3 linked regions of the Homo sapiens genome follow. The protein of the gene in region 2 interacts with the protein of the main gene of each other region in a biochemical or structural test. Each region holds a gene or a part of one and is shown on either strand. Other genes may lie near its edges.

Region 1 (7,944 bases), on a different chromosome or scaffold from region 2:
TTGGCTGGGAATAGGTCAGTTTCAGAGACATTCCCACAGAGCAGGAGGGACAGACTACTTCTAAGCAGGTTGTTAGGCACTGGTGTCTAAAATTTGGTCAAATTTTAGACACCATGAGCAATAGCACATTATCAACTGTGATCATTTAATTATCTCTTGTTCTCCCTAGCTACATTTTCTGCCTGTTGTCATAAAGATTAAGTGGGACCACCTACTTAGATTTTTAGTTATCGTATTTTTATATTAAAAATAGTAACTCATTGTGGACTTTGCTCATTCCATTCAATCACAAAGCCTTCTCTAGGGAACATATTATCAAAGGTCCCTCCTCTTCTATTTTAGTTTGGCCATTAGCCCAGAAAGTATTTCCACAGAACTTTAAAATTTGTACCCCTGAAAATATTAAATAACATCAATTTATCCAGGAAAATTTGTCTATGGTTTAAGATAAGTGTCCTAGTAAACAATGAGTATACTTATCAGATATTTCTGGGGCAGGGGGAGTGGGGAGAGAGAGCAATGAGAAATTTCATGAGGAAATGTAATATAATAAGGTTTTGCCCTAATAAAGCAGAACCAGGAAGTTAAAAAAAATTACAGTTTGAAAACTAAAGGACAGGTGTTAGAAAAGAGAAACCCAAACAAAGGAAGAAGAAAGACCTGGACTATATGGATTTTAATTTAAGGAGTTGCACTGTGATAATAAACCTATTCTTTTAACTCAAAACTGTTTATTTCCTATCCCATTAACTAAGTGGAAGATCTCAAAAGGGGACAGTCCTGTAGGCCAAATCTACCCTGGGAGCCAAGGTGCACCCTCTGGGTAGCTCGAGAGAGCACAAGGCATCAGTTGGTGGTGAGCTTGACTTGAGAGTTGAGACTAAAACAGCTGGTGGGAGAGTAATGTATAGCCTAAACCATATGAAATTGTATGTGGCTGGATTTTCTTTTCTTCATTTTTTTTATTGTAAAATACAGATAACTTAGAATTTACCATTTTAAGAGTACTATTCAGTGGTATTAAGTACATTTGCAATGTTGTGCAACCATCACCACTTTGCATTTCCAGAACGTTTTTCATCATCTCAAACAGAAATTCTGAACCCATAAAACAACTCCCTATTACCCTCCCCCTAGCCCCTGGTAGCCTCTATTCTACTTTCTGTCTCTATGAGTTTGACTACTTTAGGTACCTCATATAAGTGGAACCATACCATATGTGGCCTTTGTGTCTGGCTTCTTTCACTTAGCATAATGTTTTCAAGGTTCATCCATGTTGTAGCATGTATCAGAGTTTCATTCCTTTCTAAGGCTGAATAATATTTCATTGTGTGTATACACCAAATTTTGTTTATCCATTCATTTGTTGATGGACATTTGGGTTGTTTCCACATTTTGGCTATTGTGAATAATGCTGCTATGAACGGTGGTGTTCAAGTGTCTGTTACAGTCCCTGTTTTCCCTTCTTTGGGGTATATACCTAGGAGTGGAATTGCTGGGTCATATGGTAATTTTATGCTTTTTGAGAAACTGCCATGTTGTTTTCCACAGCAGCTGCACCATTTTACATTCATGCCAGCAATGTAGGAGGGTTCCAATTTCTCCACATCCTGGCCGGACACTGTATTATTATTATTTTTTTGGTTAATAGCCTTTCTAATGGGTGTGAAGTGGTATCTCATTGTGGTTTTGATTTGCATTTCTCTAATGACTATGATGTTAAGTGTCTTTTCATGTGCTTATTGGATATTTACATATATTCTTTGAAGAAATGGCTCTGCAAGTCCTTTGCCCATTTTTGACTTGGGTTTTTTGTTTTGCTGAGTTGAGTTGTAGGAGTTTTTTATATGTTCTGGATATTAATGCCATATCAAATATATTATTTGCAAATATTTTCTCCCATTCTGTAGGTTGCCTTTTCACTCTGTTGATAGTGTCTTTTGATGCACAAAAGTTTTTAATTTTGTTGAACTCCAATTTGTCTATTTTTTCCACCTGTGCTATTGTCATATCCAAGAAATTATTGCCAAATCCAATGTTGTGAAACTTCCCTGTCACGTTTTCTTCTAAGAGTTTTATAGTTTTACCTCTTATGGTTAGGTTTTTGATTCATTTTCAGTTAATTTTTGTATGTTATGTGAGGAAAAGATCCAACTCCATTTTTTTGCATATATATATATATATATATCCAGTTTTCCCAGCACCATTTATTGCAAAGACTATCCTTTCCCTCATTGAATGGTCATGGCACCCTCGTGGAAAATCAGTTGATCATATATGTTAAGGGTTATTTATGAGCTCCTTATTCTATCCCATTGGCATATATACCTGTCCTTACGCAGTACAGTTTCATAGTGAGTTTTGAAATCAGGAAGTAGGAGCCCTCCCAACATTGTTCTCCTTTTTCAAGATTGTTTTGGCTAGTGGCGAGGTGGGGGGGAAACTCCTTATCTGTATGAATTTTAGCATCATCTTGTCCATTTCTGCAAAAAAAAAAAAAGCCTGCTGGGATTTTGATAGGGATTGCATTGACTCTGTAGATCAATTTGAGGAGTATTGCTATCTTAATACTTTTATTTCAGTCTTGAATGTTTTTCAATGATGTTCTGTAGTTTTCAATGTACAAATCTTGCATTTCTTTTGTTAAATCGATTTTTAACTTTATTGATTTTGATGCTATTGTAAATGGAATTTTAACTTAATTTTCAGATTGTTTATTGCTAGTGTGTAAAACTATAACTGATGTTTAAATATTGATCTTATATCCTGCAGTTTTGCTGAACTTGCTTATTGGCTTTATTTTTTTTATAATGGATTTCCCAAGATTTTCTATATATAAAATCATGTCATGTGAAAGTAGCGATAGTTTAATTGTTCCTTTCTTATCTGGATGCCTTTCATTTCTTTTTCAGGCTAGAACTGCAAGTACAATATTGAACAGAATTGGTGAGAGGGGACATCCTTGTTAAAGGTGCACTTTTGATAGGGTTAAAAGACCAGTGTTCAACACTTTCCAATCCTGACTTCGGGCAAATCATTTACCCTTTCTGTTTCCTTATCTAAAATAGAAAATAACAGCCTATAGTGTACGCGGGTGGTCGTGTCTGCTTTTTAGAAGCCCATGAGCTAGTGGGGAAGCAAATGATTCATGGAAATAATTATAAAAACAAGGTAACATATGCTAAGAGTTATTAGGGCTATGAATGATACATCTTGGATACCCTATTAGATAATTTGTGGTGAAAAATTTGTAAACAATCTTGTGCTAAATAGAGAAATGGTTTAAAAATTTAAGATACCAATAACTTGCTTTCACTGTCACCTACATTAGTTTGGTTCCATTTTTAACAGTCTTTTATTACAAACTGATATAATCATAGCATAACTAAATTCAACCCTCTTCTCTATAAAATAGATCTCGGTTTGTAGGGTTTTACTATGATTTTGCATGCCATTTGATGTCCACAGGTATTTTTTAAGTCAAAAGGAAATCTGTAAATTAGGAACTGTTAATTTCCTCTTCATTTGGGCATCCTAGGTAGACTGTACAGATTTGTTCCAAGCACCCCATTAATTTGAGATTAGCCTAAGTTTTTCCTATGCCCGCACTTTGGAATATAAACATGTAGAAAATAGTCCATGACACAGCGGATGGGTTCATAAGTTTCTTCCGGGTCCTAACACCGAATTGTGCTGATGATCTGGCAATGGAGGCTAATCTTGCCACATCAAGTACGGCCTATTCGCTAAGCCGTCTGGGGCACTTTATAATTTTTTTCTTTGCTGGTCTGTTTGAAGGGCTCCTATGGCCAAAAAGGTGGTCAGTCCCGTCAGCTAGGCTGTGAGGACGCCTAAACGCTTTGAGGACGCCTAAACGCTTTGAGGTAGTGATGATGCATGATCGTGTGAAAGAGTTTCTCAGAGCACCTCCCTCGCGGGGTGGGGAAAAGGACCTCACTCCCCACGCCCCCTCCTTCCGCTGCGGGAGATAGCCACACCTTCCCCCTATCGGCGCCAAGCAGGTGGCCAGGCCCTCGGGACCTCGCGCCCCCGCAGCCAGTGGCCCGGCCAGCTCGTGCGTCACGTGACGCGGGTCAGCTGCACCGCCGGGACCTCCAGGCACCGCGGCGGCGACCGCCCAGCGCGTGGTCTCGAGATCTCATCTTTCCGCGCCCCTCCCCCCACGGTCCCGGAAAAGGGGGAGGCCGGTGACGTCATCATCCGGGTTCTTGTCGGCGGGGCTACGGTTCACAATGGAACAAAAACAAGCGGCCCGAGTCAAACTATGAGCGACGCGGCTGCGGCTCACGCGATTAACCCTGTCGTGGCCACACACCCCGCCAGTCCCTGCCGCCCAGCCCCTCCCGAGTGGTGTGCCAGATCTTTTCGGGCCTCCCTTCCCCAACTTCGGTCCTAGAGCCACCTCTGCCCTCGTCCCGCTCCTGAGCCGAGGGGCATGGAACAGGATTTCTGGCCGTAGCACGACCCTGAAGGGGCCAGCCGGAAGAAACAGTACTGCGCGAACAATCTTTACCGCATTGTCTTCCCCTCCCCCACCCTAGCTCTCCGGGTTCCCGGCGGCTCGCGCCGAAGCCCGGCCCCCTCAGCGGCTCGCGCTGCTCTCCCAGCCTTGACGGCCCGGGGTGGAGGGAGAGAAGAGGGGGCAGCTGAGCGGGAGGGGGCTGGGCAGGAGCAGGGGGAGGGCCGAAAGGAGGGGCCTGAAAGGGGCGGGCCCTGACGGGGGCGGAGAACTTCGGGTCTTGGGCGGCTCTGGGGCTAGTGGGAGTCTGCGCCGCCGCCGCCGCCGCCACCGCTGCTGCCGCCGTCGCCGCTACCGCCGCCGCCACTGGCCGAGCGGTTTTTTTTTTTTTGGTTTGCCGGATCCGCCATATTGACGAGGACGGGCATCCGCGGCTGCGGACGCTAGTCTCCGCCGCCGCCGGAGCCGCAACCTCTCCGCACCCGGCCCCGTCAGGGCCTCTGTCGCGCCTAGCCCCTCCCCGCCTTACACAGCTCCCGGGCCTCGCGGGAGCCCGCCGCCGCCGCCTCTCTCTCACGGGAGGCGGCCGCCTTAGCGCCCGGTGCTTGGGTCGGCGCCGGGAGCGAGGAGCGAGCTACTTCAAAGCCACCAGGCCTGGAGCGGGGACAGAGGCGGCGACTAGGGGAAGGTGAAGCCGTCGCTGCAGGAGGAGGAGCAGGAGGAGGTGACGCAGGAGAAACGCACCGCCCGGAGCCCGTCTGAGCTCAGCGAGAGCCCCAGCCTGAGGGGAGAAGGGGAAGAGGGCCGTCGCCGGCCAAGGAGGAGGAGGAGGCGGGCGCGGCGAGGAGCGAGTTCCGGCGCCGGTGTGCAGCCTTTTGGTTGAGACGCCCGCAGCCCCGAGCCCGGCCGCCGCAGCCTTTCGATACACTTTGTTGCCGGTCACCCCCGGGCCTGGGATGCACCCAGGGTAGGTCTCGTCCCGGGACCGAGCCCCACCGTCGCCTGGTGCCTCCCGCCTCCGTGTGCCCTGGTTGTGAGAAGACGTCTGTGTCGTGCGGTGAGTGGCCAGCTGCACTGGGGCGACGCTCTTTCCCGGGGCCAACAGCTGGATGTGGGTGAGGGGAGGAGGGCGAGGGGGGTGTGCGTGTGTGCGAGCCTCTTCCCTCGGCGGCTGCCGGCCAGGCTGGGGCTTCCCCGTTCCCCCTCCTCCGGCCCGGGCTGGGCGGGCGCGCGGGCCCGTGTTGTGTGTGGAGCCGGTGTCCCGAGAGCGTGTCTGTGTGTTTTGGACTGTAAGGGAAAATGGCTGACGGCTCCGTCCCTCCCCCTCCTCCCCCTTCCCGTCCTGTCTGGGGCCGAGTAGGAGGATGGAGTCTCCGGGCGTGGCGGGCAGCCCCCCCGCCGTCCGCACCCGGGGGCCGGGTCGGTTTGGGGGCTGGCCGCCCCCCGCCCGGCGGCCGCTTTCCTACCCGGTCTGGTTCCACTTGACACCAAACGCCATTACTGAGGTGGAGTGATTTGGAGCTGGGGAGCTAGGCCTCGGCTACGCCTGGCTATCAGGCCTGACGACTTGTCCGCCTCCCCCCACCCTCCCGCGATAACCCGCAGTTTCTCCCCGGCCCTGGGCTCCTGGAGTGGGAGCTGGGTTATCGGCCTCCTACACCTCCTTCGCCCCGCTTTATTTGCAGAGGGCCAAAGCCGTGAAAGGGGTTTTTGAATGCAGAAATCGCTTCCAAGCTAGCTTGGACCTATTACCTTTCTATTTTTAACTGTTTCTGCAAATATTAGCATGTGCGAGTTTGGTAGTGATCAGGTCTTCAGATTCTTGTGACGTGAGGCTTAGGGTTGGATAAATGGCTGATTTTTCATTCATTGTGAAATAAGTTAAAGAGTTATACAGCAGGTGTGTAGATGGCTTCTTAAATTATTTGTGTGGATTTCTGTAGCGACTAGAACTTACACGAGAATTTGCAAAATTTCTAGTAGAACCTGCTTAAATTAAGCATGTTATTTTTTGGAAGTTCCATAGTTACAACGTTAATTGAATTTACACGGTGCAGTTTACAGGTGTATATAATTGCTTCAGATTGTCTTTTAGTTTAAATAAGCAAGTTGTAGGTATAGATTAAATATTCATGCTTTATTTTTCGGGGAGAGAAGTATGTGTACTGTTCTTTTACCTGGAAACCCATGAGTCCCTAAATCTACTTAACGTTTGTATACTTTCACTTTTGAGGAAGAATGATTTGGGGTGCATTGATTAGGAAACTTTCCAGCAGGTACTTAACCCTCTCGGAGCTGATTACCCTTAGGTAAGGACTCCTTAACCATGACTAGCTTGGCTGGTTAGTACACTTGAACTCAAAAATAGAGACTATAAACTCTCCTTTAGATCTCGCTCGTCTTCTAATTCGCTGGGCTGCCATTTTGGTTTCAGCAAATACCTTCAAATTCTTGAAGAATTATGTATTAAATATAAAAAAGTGTCAACATTCGTTTTCTCAATTTTTAAACTCATGTGCTGTGTCATACATCTAACTTTAACCCTTTAAACTTTATCGTTCCAGCTTTTGGGTGGAGTGAAAGCTTGAAGTATTTGGAATTGGTGTTCCACAGGTGAACTCAAAATGTCTTTGGTATTTTACTGTTTTATTTTCTCTAATTTAAAAATAGGACGTTTGGACTATATGAATTCTCTCTACCCCTTTTCTTGTATTTTTTTGCATGAACATGTAACTTGTAATTCTGGTTATCAGCGTTCTCATGTTTCTTTTGTTTGCTGACCTTGGTAGTTTCTGAGAATTTCTGGAGGGAGTAATAGCACCAGCAACAGTACATGTGAGAATCTTAAGTTACTTCAGGAAGGAACATTGAAGGGCAGATTTTACCTTTCACCAGGTTATTGGGGTCTCTAGTTTGGTGTTCCATAGTCCATAGTTCTCATGGTTTTGTTTGTTTGTTTTTTTGTCTGTCGCCCAGGCTGGAGTGCAGTGGCACGATCTCGGCTCACTGCAACGTCCACCTCCCGGGTTCAAGGGATTCTCCTGCCTCAGCCTCCCTGGTAGCTGGGACTACAGGCGCGTGCCATCACGCCCGGCTAATTTTTTGTATTTTTAGTAGAGACGGGGTTTCACCGTGTTAGCCAGGATGGCCTCGATCTCCTGACCTCGTGATCCGCCCGTGTCGACCTCCCAGTTCTCATGTTTTATCTATGGAATGCTCAAGTAGGATTTACTTTAGATCTTTTTTCTTCCAGAGTCTTGTTTTTAATATCTTAAGGTATGAGATTTCTTTGCTATCTTCTCAGAGATTTTTCTTTGACATGGTGGTAATAATGCAGCTTATGGTTTTGAAATGGATGTTTGTCATGAATTTGCTAATCATCCAGTTCTTGATTAGTTGGTCACACAACAAGTGTCTTTGAGCTTATTTTTATTTAATAAGATCAATTTCTAACGTTTTAGTTT
Region 2 (5,623 bases):
AAAGCCAAAAGATAATCACCATTACCCAGAATAAAGCCCCCTGGCAAACTAGAATGTCTGGTGTCTTTGGCTTTTGATTGAAATGTGGTCAGCTCATTAGAGACACTCGGTGTAGACTGGGTATTATGCTGATCTAAAGATCTGACTTGCAAGTACAGATGTCTGTGCTTAATAAAAGTGGGGAGAACGTTATGACTTAATAAATGGAGTTTGTCTGGAAGATAAAACTAGGGCCTGAGAAAATAGAAAAGGCCAGGCTATGAAGTTTGAGGTAGCTGCTTTCAACCCAGAATGCCAGCCCTAAAACTGCTATGAAATAGCTTCCTAAATAGACCTTCAGGCCATACTGAACTGAACCCGGCAGGCCCCTCAGCTGGCTACCCTATACTTCAACTTCCCTCTGGCAGTGGAGAGGAGCCCCACATAGGCAATGTCCCCCCAAGCTGCTGCTTTCTGCATGGCGTGGTGTATAGGATGTACTTAAATAGTCACTGAAAGGATGAGTGGATGGACCTGTAGCTGAGAAATCATGGTGGAAAACATGGAACTCCAGAGTTTCATCCTTTTATTGAAGCTTACAATTTCACTGGACTTTTGGCCCCAAATGAAAAAAAATGCAAATTAAAAAAAGTATTGGCAGGGAGAGGTGACCACTGTCTCCTGGAGACTGAAGCCGAGCAGAGCATGGCAGGCAAGTGAGGGGTCCCAGCTGCAGAGGGCAGAAGCCTGGCCAAAGATGCCCAGGGAGCAGATTTGTCTGAGCAGGGCCAGCCCCAGGCAGCTAGAAGTTAACACACAAGGATTTATGGGTGTGGCAGAATCCAAGCCACTGGTCCCATAGACAGATCTCTCTCATGCTTGGTCAGATTCCACTTTGGAGAAAATGGGCTCGTTTGACAGGATGGCCTGGTGAGGGAACACAGGTACTAACGGTAACAGGCCGATGAACACTCACCACTGGCATCAGGGTGGAGCTCAGCTGACTGGACACTAACTCCATTACAAGGACCTGCTCCTGGTGCCAGGCTGTGCCACTCAACTGCTCATGGCCATCAGGACATTCAACTTCTATCCTCTCCTCCATCAGGCCCCTATCTGTGTGGCCTCAGCCCCGGTCCTCACTATTTGGTGGCTATGATGCAGGACTCTCCACCCTCTTTTGGAACAGTGTTGCATCAAGCAAGGGAGAATGTTCTTCTAGAGGGACAGGAAAAGAAGAGATGTCCACATACTTCTCTCACTCTAAGAAGCCAGGAAAGGTCCCTGGTGCACTCCACTCTCCACAGATGGTTGGGTCATAGCATCCGAGAAGCTGTCATGGTGACGAAGTCCTCGAAGCTGAGCCGAATGTTGCCTTGTACAGCTGTGTCCTTCTCCCGGAAGGCCTCTGTCAGCACCTGCAGCTGGGTGCACACCTGGATGAAGCGGTCAAGCTGCATGGCAGGATTGGCAGAGCGTGGGCAGTAGCGGGAGACCAGAAGCTGGGTGAACTGGGGGCTCAGGTTGTAGCCCATTTGGGACAGAGCTGGAGAAGAGGGGCACACAGACCAGACACACAAAAACCTGCCATGAGCACCTCCATCAATCAGGAATACTGGATCACAACAGTTCAAGGAACTTCGAGAGGATGGGCACAGAAGCACAAAGAGGGTAGAGAAATCCCAAGGGTCTGTCTAAGATGTCAGAAACACAACAGGGACCGTGTCTGGATGCTCCCCTTAGGTGGAAGGCCCTCATCCCTCTTTCTCCAAATCTCCATTATTGTCTCTTCAACTGAGGCTCAGGGGATTGCAGAGACGACAACGGACTATCCGCAATCATCTCTGATTCGTTTGCATTCCAAAAGGAAGCCTGAGCTCCCAGGACCACCTTGCCTGGGGCAGACATCAGAGGCAGTACAGCAGAGGTATGAGGACCTGCTCTGGAGTCAGCCACTGGGCAAGTTGCTTAGCCTCACTATCCCTATCTTATCATCTCTAAAATGGGGATAATACTTAACTTGTAGGTTCTAGTAAGGATTAAAACGGGTGATCATGTAAAGCACTTAGCACAGTGACTGGCACAGAAAAAGCACTTGGTAAATGCTATTTTAATAAAGTCACTGTCACTCCAAGGTCTCTTGGAGCATCCTGTCTCTTCACTGGGATGCTTCCTTCCTTCCTCTGTTCAGAACTTACCAGGCCAGGCTAAAACCTCAGCTCTCCATTTGTTATGCGGGCCCTTGGGCAGGTTACCTACACTAAACCTCAGTTTTCTCACCGGTAAAAGGGAGATTATAAGGGATTCTTCATTGAAGGGTGTGGAATTATAAATAGTACCTAGCACATGGGAAGAATGAATTACATAAGCCTATTAAAAATAGCAAGCATTCAGTAAATACGTTTTGTTGTGGTTAATATCACCCTTACTAATATCCACGACAAAAGCTGGCAAGAGTAGGTGATTACTATAGGTCATCTCCCCTCCCTTTTACTGGGGGCAGATGTGGTGCACTCACTCCTGCCCACAGACCTCCTTAGTCTGAATGAAATCCACAGCCTGGGCAAAGGACTAGACTCTCTGGGGAGCCCTTTCTCCCTCCTGGGTGGCAAAGCTCCCTCTTGGGTCCTCCCCCAACCTCTTACTAACCTGCCTGAGCCCAAACTGTGGCCTTCTGCCTTACACAGTCAGTTTGGAACCAGACCTGGGGCTGTGGCCTCAGGTCATCTTCCCCAACTGCAACTTTTAGAGTGCTCAGGGTCCCAAAAGTTGGGAAAGAAACTGTCCACTAGCAGAGGTGGCAACAGACCCATCTTTCTGAGCCCTGTTCAGGGCTCTTTCCATTCTACATGCTAGAAACTGGAGAGAAAGGAGTCACCCAAGCCACACACACTGGTCTCATAGTCCTTAAGGTGCCAAGTTTCCATCCTTAAGGCTCCCTGTGGCTGGGGCCGTCTCACCCAGCACTCCAGGGTCCAGCCCTGATTCTGGACCCAGGTGTTTCCTTGCCCTGGCTCTTGGCTCAGTGCCCCAGCTGGGTCAAAGAAGGGGTGAGGGATGCAGGCCTGCACTGAGAACAGCATTTTGTAGTGCAGGTGGACATTCGGTAACAAGAGGAAACCCCTTTGTTGTATCTTAGGGTGTAAAGAGAAGAGTCTAGCTCTGTCCTGCCCATCGTGCCCCGGCCATGACCCGCACCTTGCTGCAGCTCTGTGTAGCTAATGGAGCCCGAGCGGTCCCGGTCATACTGCTGGAAGAGGTTCTTCCACTGCTGGATGAATTTCCACAGGGCTGAGAAGCCGTAGACATCGATGCGGCCTGACTTGGTCTTGTCAAACATGTCTGAAGGTGAGGAGGGAAAGGAGGGGAGGAAGGCTTCAAGACTGAAGGCCAAGGGTCCCCCTCAGGACCCATTGAGGCAGCCCTTCTCTCCAGGCTGGAGTAGGCGACTTCACAGAACCAAGCCCTGAGGCCCAGATGCCTGCACCTGAGACACCCACATCAAGCGTTGCACCGTCCTCCTACTCTGGACACCTTTAGCCCCACCCCATCCAGAACTGCATTTTCTCTGCAGGCTTGGCACCTGACCCCTCCCTGCTGTTTCCTACAGGGGAGGGAGTACCATTCTACAGAAGAGGAAACTAAGTTAACCTGTAACTAGGCAGGGTCTAGAACTTAAGAAAGATCTCAGGAAAAGAGCTCTCAGTCTAGGGGATCTCACCCTGAACCTAGCTTCCTCCCCACAGTCCTCCCTGGTCAATGAATTTCTCTTCAGAATGTCCACCCACCCACCTACCCACCTACTGTCCACTATCAGGTGGCTCTGCCCCAGCTCAGGCCCAAGGGCAAGGCGGAGACTCACTTATCATCATGAGGCAGGTCTCATCATTGAATGAAGACCAATTGCAGTTGACCAGGGCCTGCTTTAGCTCCTTCATGGAGATATAGCCACTGTGATCTGAGTCCACCGACTGGAACCAGGAGTAGGCCTCAGGATCCACATTGGGAGGGGCGCCACCTGGAGGAAGGGGTGTGAAGGCCATCAACAGAAATGCCAGGAAGGGCCAGCCTCAGTAACTTCCTGGCTACAGGTTTCTCCTACACACGAAGCTTCACAAATTCACCTTCCCTGTCTTCCATCAAGCTGACATTCTTACTCTGATGGAAGAGGACCTTCAGTGAAGATTCATGAGTATTTGCAGTTGATTTCTATTCCATGAGTCCTCTGGAGTTCTCGTATAGTGTTCCAGACACTACTCTTAATTGATTTTATGTTTTTAAGGAACGGGGACCTGTACCCCTGTAGCATTTCAAGAATTCTCTGGAAAAGGTAAACTGCGAGATGGGGGAATGGGTGGTAGATAAAAGTGTAGAAGTGGCCAGGCACAGTGGCTCACGACTGTAATCCCAGCACTTTGGGAAGCCGAGGCAGGCGGATCACCTGAGGTCGGGAGTTTGAGACCAGCTTGACCAACATGGAGAAACCCCGTCTCTACTAAAAATAGAAAATTAGCCGGGCATGGTGGCACATGCCTGTAATCCCAGCTACTGGGGAGGCTGAAGCAGGAGAATCGCTTGAACCCGGGAGGTGGAGGTTGTGGTGAGCCAAGATCACGCCATTGCACTCCAGCCTGGGCAACAAAAGCGAAACTCCATCTCAAAAAAAAAAAAACAAAAAAACCCAAAAAAAACAGTGTAGAAGCTGGTAAGTCTGTCTACCTTAGGACACTGAGTTAACTGGCCACAATCGGGGTCCCTTCACACAAAGACAGCCATGGGCAGTTGTGGAGGACAGAAACCACTGCCTAGTACCAAAGCCCAGTAAGGACAGAGGGAAAAAGGTATGCCTGACTTAGGGATTAGTCTGACTTCCTTGGAAAAATCCGGGCAGGTTCTAGCCATCTTCCTAAAACATCGGTGTCATAGGGGAGCAAGGGCCACAGCCCCAGGGCAGGAGAGATTCTGTGACATGTTTGAACTGTGTAGTTTGTATAGAAGGGCTCAGGCTTTGGAATCAAAGCAGACCTGGATTCAAACCCTGGATCTGATCCTTACTAGCTTGTGTGACTTTAGGCAAAATGTACAATTTTCTGAGTAATGATTTTCACATTTCTAAAATGAACCCATTTCCCCAGAATTGTTGTGATGATTAAATGAGATAACAGCAAAATAAAATCCTCAGCAAAGAGCCTGGAATGTGTGTCTTCTGAGATATTTTCACAGAGAAACGGATATTTAAACTGAGTTTCTCCCCATGGTAGGCTACATTATCGTCTCCTGGCTAATAATCTCTAGCCAGGAGACACAGTCTGCACACCCACAGACATTGTACTAATATGGTACAATGGTTTAAAAGGCCAGTTCAATAATCTATTATTAGATTACTTGCTAATCTCCCCTTCCCTATAAGAGCATTGTACATCCTCTCCCACTGCCTGGTGGCTTGCAGAGGGGCATCCTTTCCCATCCTACTGATGTCAGTCTTGATCAGGGGGTGCTCTGGCCAAAAGAATGCAAGTGGGCAAGACATACAGTACTTCAGAGAAGCTTTAAGAGGCATTGTGCATTCTTGCTAGCTCTCCTGCTCCTTCTCTCTGCCACAAAGATAACATATCCCAAACAGGAGCTGCTCCTTCAGCATGTA
Region 3 (7,112 bases), on a different chromosome or scaffold from region 2:
AGCAGTTAACAGTAGGAATTTTGTAGTGTTGCCAAAACAGATGTATTCGTAGGAAGCTAAAGTGTTGGCCGGGCACAGTGGCTCACGCCTGTAATCCCAGCACTTTGGGAGGCTGAGACGAGTGGATCACTATATCAGGAGATTGAGACCATCCTGGCTAACACGGTGAAACCCCATTTCTACTAAAAATACAAAAAAATTAGCCGGGCGTGGTGGCGGGCGCCTGTAGTCCCAGCTACTCGGGAGGCTGAGGCAGGAGAATGGTGTGGACCCGGGAGGTGGAGCTTGCAGTGAGCTGAGATCGCGCCACTGCACTCTAGCCTGGGTGACAGAGCGAGACTCTGTCTCAAAAAAAAAAAGAAAAAAAAGATGAATAGTTATTTAAAAGCTCTTATTTTCAAACTTTAGTGTACATGTTTACTCTTTGAGACTGGGAGTGGGATGGCACTGGAAGACTTAATTAACCAGCAGTATGCCAGCAAAGCTTATGATAAACATGATGAATCTTTCTGGTTATAATTTTACATTAAAACAAATCAAAAAAGAATGTCCCACTGTATCTTGGAGTCAGATGCTTCTAAGCTTTTGACCCTCACTGGCGTGTATATACTTGTTCTGCTATTTTTTGGAGTACATTGGCACAGTTTGAAAAACATTGCTTACAGATAATGTTTTAATTTAGTATTATGTAAATACCAAAGGCTTTAAAGGATATAATTCAGACTATATCAGTCTTTCGTGTAATGAGAAATTACACAAAATGCTAATAGTACTTATTTTATTTAGGCTGATTTATTATAAACACTGTAGAAACCCAGCTAAAAGCAAAAACACTCTTTTCTTCTATGTTTAAAAAATATATATATTTTTAAATGGCAGATGGAAAGCCAGAAATTTTTAGCAGAAAATAGTGCTTCAGTATATATAAAGAAAGTAGAAGCTAGAATTAATGAAGAAATAGAACGAGTGATGCACTGCCTTGACAAATCAACGGAAGAACCAATTGTAAAGGTGGTTGAAAGGGAACTCATTTCCAAGCACATGAAGACTATAGTAGAAATGGAGAATTCTGGGCTAGTACATATGTTGAAAAATGGAAAGACAGAAGGTAAGTGTTACCGATTGAAAAATAATTAAATCCTTACTCTGCCTTATCGATATTTTTAAAATTTTCCTACAATTAAAGCAGATAATATCAGCTTTCAAGAAGTTTTGGTGTGTATTGTTAATTTGTCTCCATTGTTAACTTTAATGGGATTTCCAAGCTTGATTCTGTCTTACTAACGAAGATTTTAGATATTTCTAATGAATTGAGCATTTCCTGTCTTTAAGTCTCATTTTACATTTAATCCAGAAGATAAAAGGTGTAATAGTATTGGTGAGCCCAGTGAGCTCCTCATTCATTCCTGTACTTCCTGTATACCAAAGGGTGTGGGCTCTCTTTAGTCCTACATACTCTCTTGGGGTTTTGTGATTCTCTTAAAACCTTAAGTTTCCACCTTAAGATTTTTGTAGACTTTCCTTTGGGATTTAGTTGTGACAGGGTGCTGAAAATGCAAAAATATTTGTGTCTTCCATATTGACATACTTAGATAAATTAGATTGGTTTGGGGAACACTGAAGTTACAGAATGGAAAAGGAGGAAGGAGGAGTGCATAAAAGTAAAGAACATTTTTGAGATAACTAACATTTGTTTTTTATAGCTATTTATTTTCCTGGGGTAAAAGAAAAATTGTGACAAGTATCCTAGAAGAAATTACAAGTTAAAAGAACAATAACCATATCCTCTATTCTTAGTTTCTGATGCTTTGTTTTAAAACTTTGCCTTTACCACTTATATGGTATTAGGAAATAAAAAACATGGTACTTTGTTCTCCTGCTTCCTAGACGAAATCTAAGCAATATTTTATCCACTTCTTTTTAGTAAAAGAAATACATATTGCCTGTTGGGGTCATGAGCTATGTAGGGAATGAAAAAATTTTTTAAAGGAGAATTATAAAGAGAAGGAGGATACAAGAGAAAGGAAAACGAAAGCTGGTGGGAAGTTGAGCCATGTTTATCTCTAGTGGAATCCTTACCTTGTGTTTTAAAATTGTTAAATGTTTGTATATATGAGAAATCCCTGAAAAGTTATATGTAATTTAAAAAAACAAAAAAAAAACAAAAAAAACTAGAGAGGCTTCCTTTTTAAAAGACTCTTCAGTTAAACCTTTTTTGTAAAAGCCAAAAAAAAAAAAAAAACAGAAGTCATCTAGTATATTTGCTGTGTTTTCTAAAATTGAGGTCCAAGTCAGGGGTTGGCAAGCTTTTTTGTTGTTGAATAAAATGGCTTGTGAGCCACGCAGTCATAGTGAGAAAATAGTCCTAGACAATAACAAATGAATAATCCTGTGTTTCTATAAGACTTTATTTATGGGCCCTGAAACTTGAATTTCATATAATTTTTATGTGTCACTAAATAGCATTCTTTACAGTTTTTCCTCAGCCATTAAAAATGTGAAAACCATCCTTAGTTCATGAGCTGTACATAAATAGATGGCAGGCTGTATTTGCCCCACGGGTTCTAATTCGATGACCCTTCTCTAAGTGGTCTCTGGTAGACTGGGACTTTATGCAAAGCATTTGCCCTGCTTAAACAAAATGAGTATTGATAAATTATGTAATGTACTGTTTAGGTATTGAATGAATGCTTTCTTACCTACCTTAGGGGATAGGAAATGTTTGATGGAGAGGTTGTTGGGCATACCTGAATTACAGCATCTCTGTAACCTGTGTGGAGATGTATGTAAAAGGTGTCAGGTATGCCTATCATGGCGAGCACTTACGTGAATGAAGGAATACCATAATAGTACTCACCAGAGTTCTCCTTTATTTAGTACCTTAGGTTTCCAACAACACAGTAGCTATCTGTGATTCTAAATTAAATTTTAAAATCCTGCTTTTGTCCAGGCAGGGTGGCAAACGCCTGTAATCTCAGTATTTTTGGGAGGCTGAAGCAGGTGGATCGCTTGAGCTCAGGAGTTTAAGACCAACCTGGGCAAATTGGTGAAACCCTGTCTCTATGAAAAATACAAAAATTAGCTGGGCATGATGGCACATGCCTAGTCCCAGCCACTTGGGAGGTTGAGGTGAGAGGATCATTTGAATCTGGCTGGGGAGGTCAAGGCTGCAGTGAACCAAGATGATGCCACTGCACTCCAGCCTGGGCTACAGAGGGAGATCCTGTCTTAAGAAAAAAAAGGTGGGGGGGTTAATTTTTCTGAGCTTCCGCTAGAAACCTGGTGGCAAAATATCCTAATTGTGGTAGGCCCTGCTCTTGGAAAAAATGTTGCTCTTGTTGAGAATATAGCAGAGCCAACTTCACCATTATGAAGCCAAATTCTCATAAATCAGAAAATGAAAAACAGTTTTCTCACTGTGAATGGAGGATAAATTGGATTGATTATTAGATGCAGATAGCACTATGAAATGAAGTTCAGAGGTATCTTTTTTTTTTTTTGAGACGAAGTCTTGCTCTGTCGCCCAGGCTGGAGTGCAGTGGTGGGATCTCAGCTCACTGCAAGCTCTGCCTCCCAGGTTCATGCCATTCTCCTGCCTCAGCCTCATGAGTAGCTGGGACTGCAGGCTCCCGCCACCACGCCCGGCTAATTTTTTGTATTTTTATTAAAGACAGGGGGGTTTCACCGTGTTAGCCAGGGTGGTCTCGATATCCTGACCTTGTGATCCGCCCGTCTCAGCCTCCCAAAGTGTTGGGATTACAGGCGTGAGCCACCGTGTCTCGCCAGTATCTTATTATTTTATTAAGTGTATGTAGAAATAATGATATTTAATTTTTGCATGCCAAATTATTTTCATTTACTTTTACATTCCCTTTACCCCAACATTTAAATACAATGAAATTGTAGTAATTTATGTACAACTAAATACACAACATGTAATATCTAAGCAAAACTTACAACAACATAGGATTGAAATAGACAAGTTGTGAACCATTTTGTTAGAAGTATTTGGTGTGCCACATTTACTGTAGTATGTGTCCATAGATTGTTGCATTTGTAATACCTGTTCTAAATATGGGAAACTTGGTTGTAATTTATGCTAAGTATGTGAGAAGCTATAAAATTGCCATGTGTAGGTTACTATGGGCATATATTATTAATGGAAACTAACTAAAATTTGCTGCTGAAAGTCACTGAAATAAAGTTTAGTAAAACTTTGTAAATCTTGCTTTGAAATATTTTAAAAATGTATACAACTTTAAGCTCTAAACTACTCTTAGAACTGTAGACCAAGGTAGGCAAATTAGGGCCTGCCTGGTGCACTACCAGTTTTGTTAAAAAAAAAAAAAAAATCAAGAGTATTTACACATGAAAATTTATATAAATTTTCAGGGTCCATGAAGTTTTATTTGAAACATAGTCACACTGAATAATTTATGTATTATCTGTGGCTACTTTCTTGCTACAGCGTCAGAGTAGTTGAGTCAGAGCTCTATGGCTCACATTTTAAAATATTTATTATCTGATACTTTACAGAAAAAACATTGGTCAGCCTCTGATCTAGAAACTCTTAATGCCATTTTAAAAAGTTATTGATTGTAAAACTTTTAAAATTATCATTGTAAAGTTCTGACACTGTGTTCTCCCAGTAAGTTGTTATTGCAAAGAAACACTAGACATATGGGAAAACTGTATTTTAAAATCTGTATTTTAGTCTTGTGAAAAATGATATTAAAAAATGGATAGGATCCAGAGTTTTCATTCTAAATTTAAAAAGTATAGTGAGATAGACCAAATTTTGAAGTACAGATATTGGCTTAGGATGCTACCTGGGAAACATTAGGGATTGCTCTCAGGAAAATATTGAAGAAGTGGTATTTATATTATACATTTCATAAAAACTTTACCTGAGGTGTAATGAAGTAAATCCTAGTATAGTTCATTTGATTTGTTTTCATGATTATCAGTTAAACCTTTGGAAATACCCATAAGACTTAAACTGGCTTTAAAATTTCTTCCTCATTACAGGGACTACCAATTACCTCTTAATTAGTGACCCTTTTTGTAGACGTTTTGTAGTGTCATTAGGTCTGCATTAGAGTTATGTAGGATAAAGTATTTATGAACTCAAAACTGCAGTTGCCATGTTTTTGTGACATTACTTGTTTATTATGGTTTTTGACATCTCTTCCATGTAAATTTAAATTTGCTAGGACATTTAATTGATGGTTTCAAAGCATCTCATCTAAAAGTTGTGTTTTATAAATTACAATAATAACCATTAACTAGCCTACTTCTTCATGTTTTCATATCAATATATGTATATTTTTAATAGTCATGTGGTCAGCAAATGGGGGTAATGGAGAAATAAGCTTCTCTCAGTATTATAGCGTGAACAGAGATTCGTGTTTTTTTCTTTAATCTTTAATGTAGCCAATTTGTGTTTTCTGATTTGTAGACCTTGGTTGCATGTACAAGTTATTTAGTCGTGTGCCAAATGGTTTGAAAACAATGTGTGAGTGTATGAGTTCCTATTTGAGGGAGCAAGGTAAAGCTCTTGTTTCTGAAGAAGGAGAAGGAAAGAATCCTGTTGACTATATCCAGGTAAGTAAACCCAGAAGATTCTCTGTGTTTATGATAAAGGCATTTTGACAAGTGCTAAAAAGGCCACTTTTACCATGCTGTGTATTGTGTACTTTCAACTTAATTGTCCCAGTAGTAAATTAATATTTGTAATTATCCTACATATTTTAGGATTTTGCAAGGTGTGCGTATTTATATCAGGGAGCTAAAATTCAGCTGCTACTTTTCATTTAACTTCTTTGATGAAGACCTTGTTTAAATAGCCTCAATAGTGAATGTGAGGTTCTTTGGTATGCCTTAGTGTTTGTATACTGTAGTATATTGGAAAAAACAACTGGTTTAAGTATTTTTTGTTTGAAAATGTTTTGTTTTCAAGGAGTACTATGAATAAATTATGTGCCATGTTTTGTGTTTTAACATAATCAGCTTTTTTTGGTACATTTTTTAAGCTAATTTTTTTCACTGGCTAACCCATTCCATCAAGACAGGAGAATGAGAAACAGTGAGGAGGTTCTTTGGTTCGTTTGCATTGTATTAATACATATATGGAAGTTATAATACTTCTCTCATTGACATTTTTAATAGAGGCTTAGATATAGGCTTGAAAATAATATCAAAACTGTAAGTTTAAAAATGAATATACATGTTTATTACCAGCAAAGTTAAGATAAACATACATGGTCATAAGTGTATTATTTATGGAAAAATTATTATAATGTGTCCTAAATTTTGTTTTTATTTCTAAGGGCTTATTGGATCTGAAGAGTAGGTTCGATCGCTTCCTCCTGGAATCATTCAACAATGACCGTCTCTTTAAACAAACTATTGCGGGTGACTTTGAGTATTTTCTCAACCTCAACTCCAGGTCTCCTGAATACCTCTCATTATTTATTGATGATAAGCTGAAAAAGGGAGTCAAAGGGGTAAGTAGTAATGCATTTGAAAATAACATTTAATTTTATTTAAAGATATAAAATTATATGTAAAATTAGGACATTTCACAGATAAAAATTAAGCATGACCCATTGCTGTGCTTAAATGGGTGCCATGGTCTATTAAAAAATATTGTTTGAAATACTTGACATGCCCAAACGTAGTTAGACATTTCACTTAATGTGTAATTGGCTTCAAAAACAAGCAACTGGATGGGCTTGGTGGCTCATGCCTATAATCCCAGCATTTGGGGAGGCCAAGACAGGAGGCTCTCTTGAGGCCAGGAGTTTGAAATTAGCCTTGTTAACTTAGTGAGACTCCATCTCTACAAAAAAAAAGAAAAAAGAAAAAAATTAGTGGCACACAGTGGTATACACCTGTTGTCCCAGAAGCTGAGGCAGAGGATCACTTGAGCTCAGGAGTTCAAGGCTGCAGTGAGCTGTGATCGCGTGACTGCACTCTATGCTGGGCGACAGAGCAAGACCTTGTCTCAAAAAAACTGAACAACTGTCCAGGTATGGTGGCTCATGCCTGTAATCTCAGCACTTTGGGAGGCCGAGGTGGGCAGACCACCTGAGGTTGGGAGTTTGAGACCA

The links.
Region 1: of the proteins of PEF1 (region 2) and USP9X, one has a biochemical effect on the other in vitro, tested with the Homo sapiens proteins (one study listed by BioGRID).
Region 3: the proteins of PEF1 (region 2) and CUL3 form a complex in vitro, tested with the Homo sapiens proteins (2 studies listed by BioGRID).

What each region holds. Positions count from the first base shown.
Region 1 is NC_000023.11:41,080,573-41,088,516, forward strand, and holds the start of USP9X (ubiquitin carboxyl-terminal hydrolase 9X), read left to right. Parts: upstream 1-4,872; 5' UTR 4,873-5,537; intron 5,538-7,044; exon of another isoform or gene 7,045-7,093; intron 7,094-7,944.
Region 2 is NC_000001.11:31,629,318-31,634,940, forward strand, and holds the end of PEF1 (peflin), read right to left. Parts: coding exon of another isoform or gene 5,529-5,623; exon of another isoform or gene 5,349-5,528; intron 5,176-5,348; exon of another isoform or gene 3,998-5,175; coding exon 3,842-3,997; exon of another isoform or gene 3,322-3,841; coding exon 3,178-3,321; coding exon of another isoform or gene 3,119-3,177; intron 1,526-3,118; coding exon 1,296-1,525; 3' UTR 549-1,295; downstream 1-548. UniProt on the Homo sapiens protein: Calcium-binding protein that acts as an adapter that bridges unrelated proteins or stabilizes weak protein-protein complexes in response to calcium.
Region 3 is NC_000002.12:224,505,350-224,512,461, reverse strand, and holds part of CUL3 (cullin-3), read left to right. Parts: intron 1-879; coding exon 880-1,108; intron 1,109-5,458; coding exon 5,459-5,604; intron 5,605-6,329; coding exon 6,330-6,506; intron 6,507-7,112. UniProt on the Homo sapiens protein: Core component of multiple cullin-RING-based BCR (BTB-CUL3-RBX1) E3 ubiquitin-protein ligase complexes which mediate the ubiquitination and subsequent proteasomal degradation of target proteins.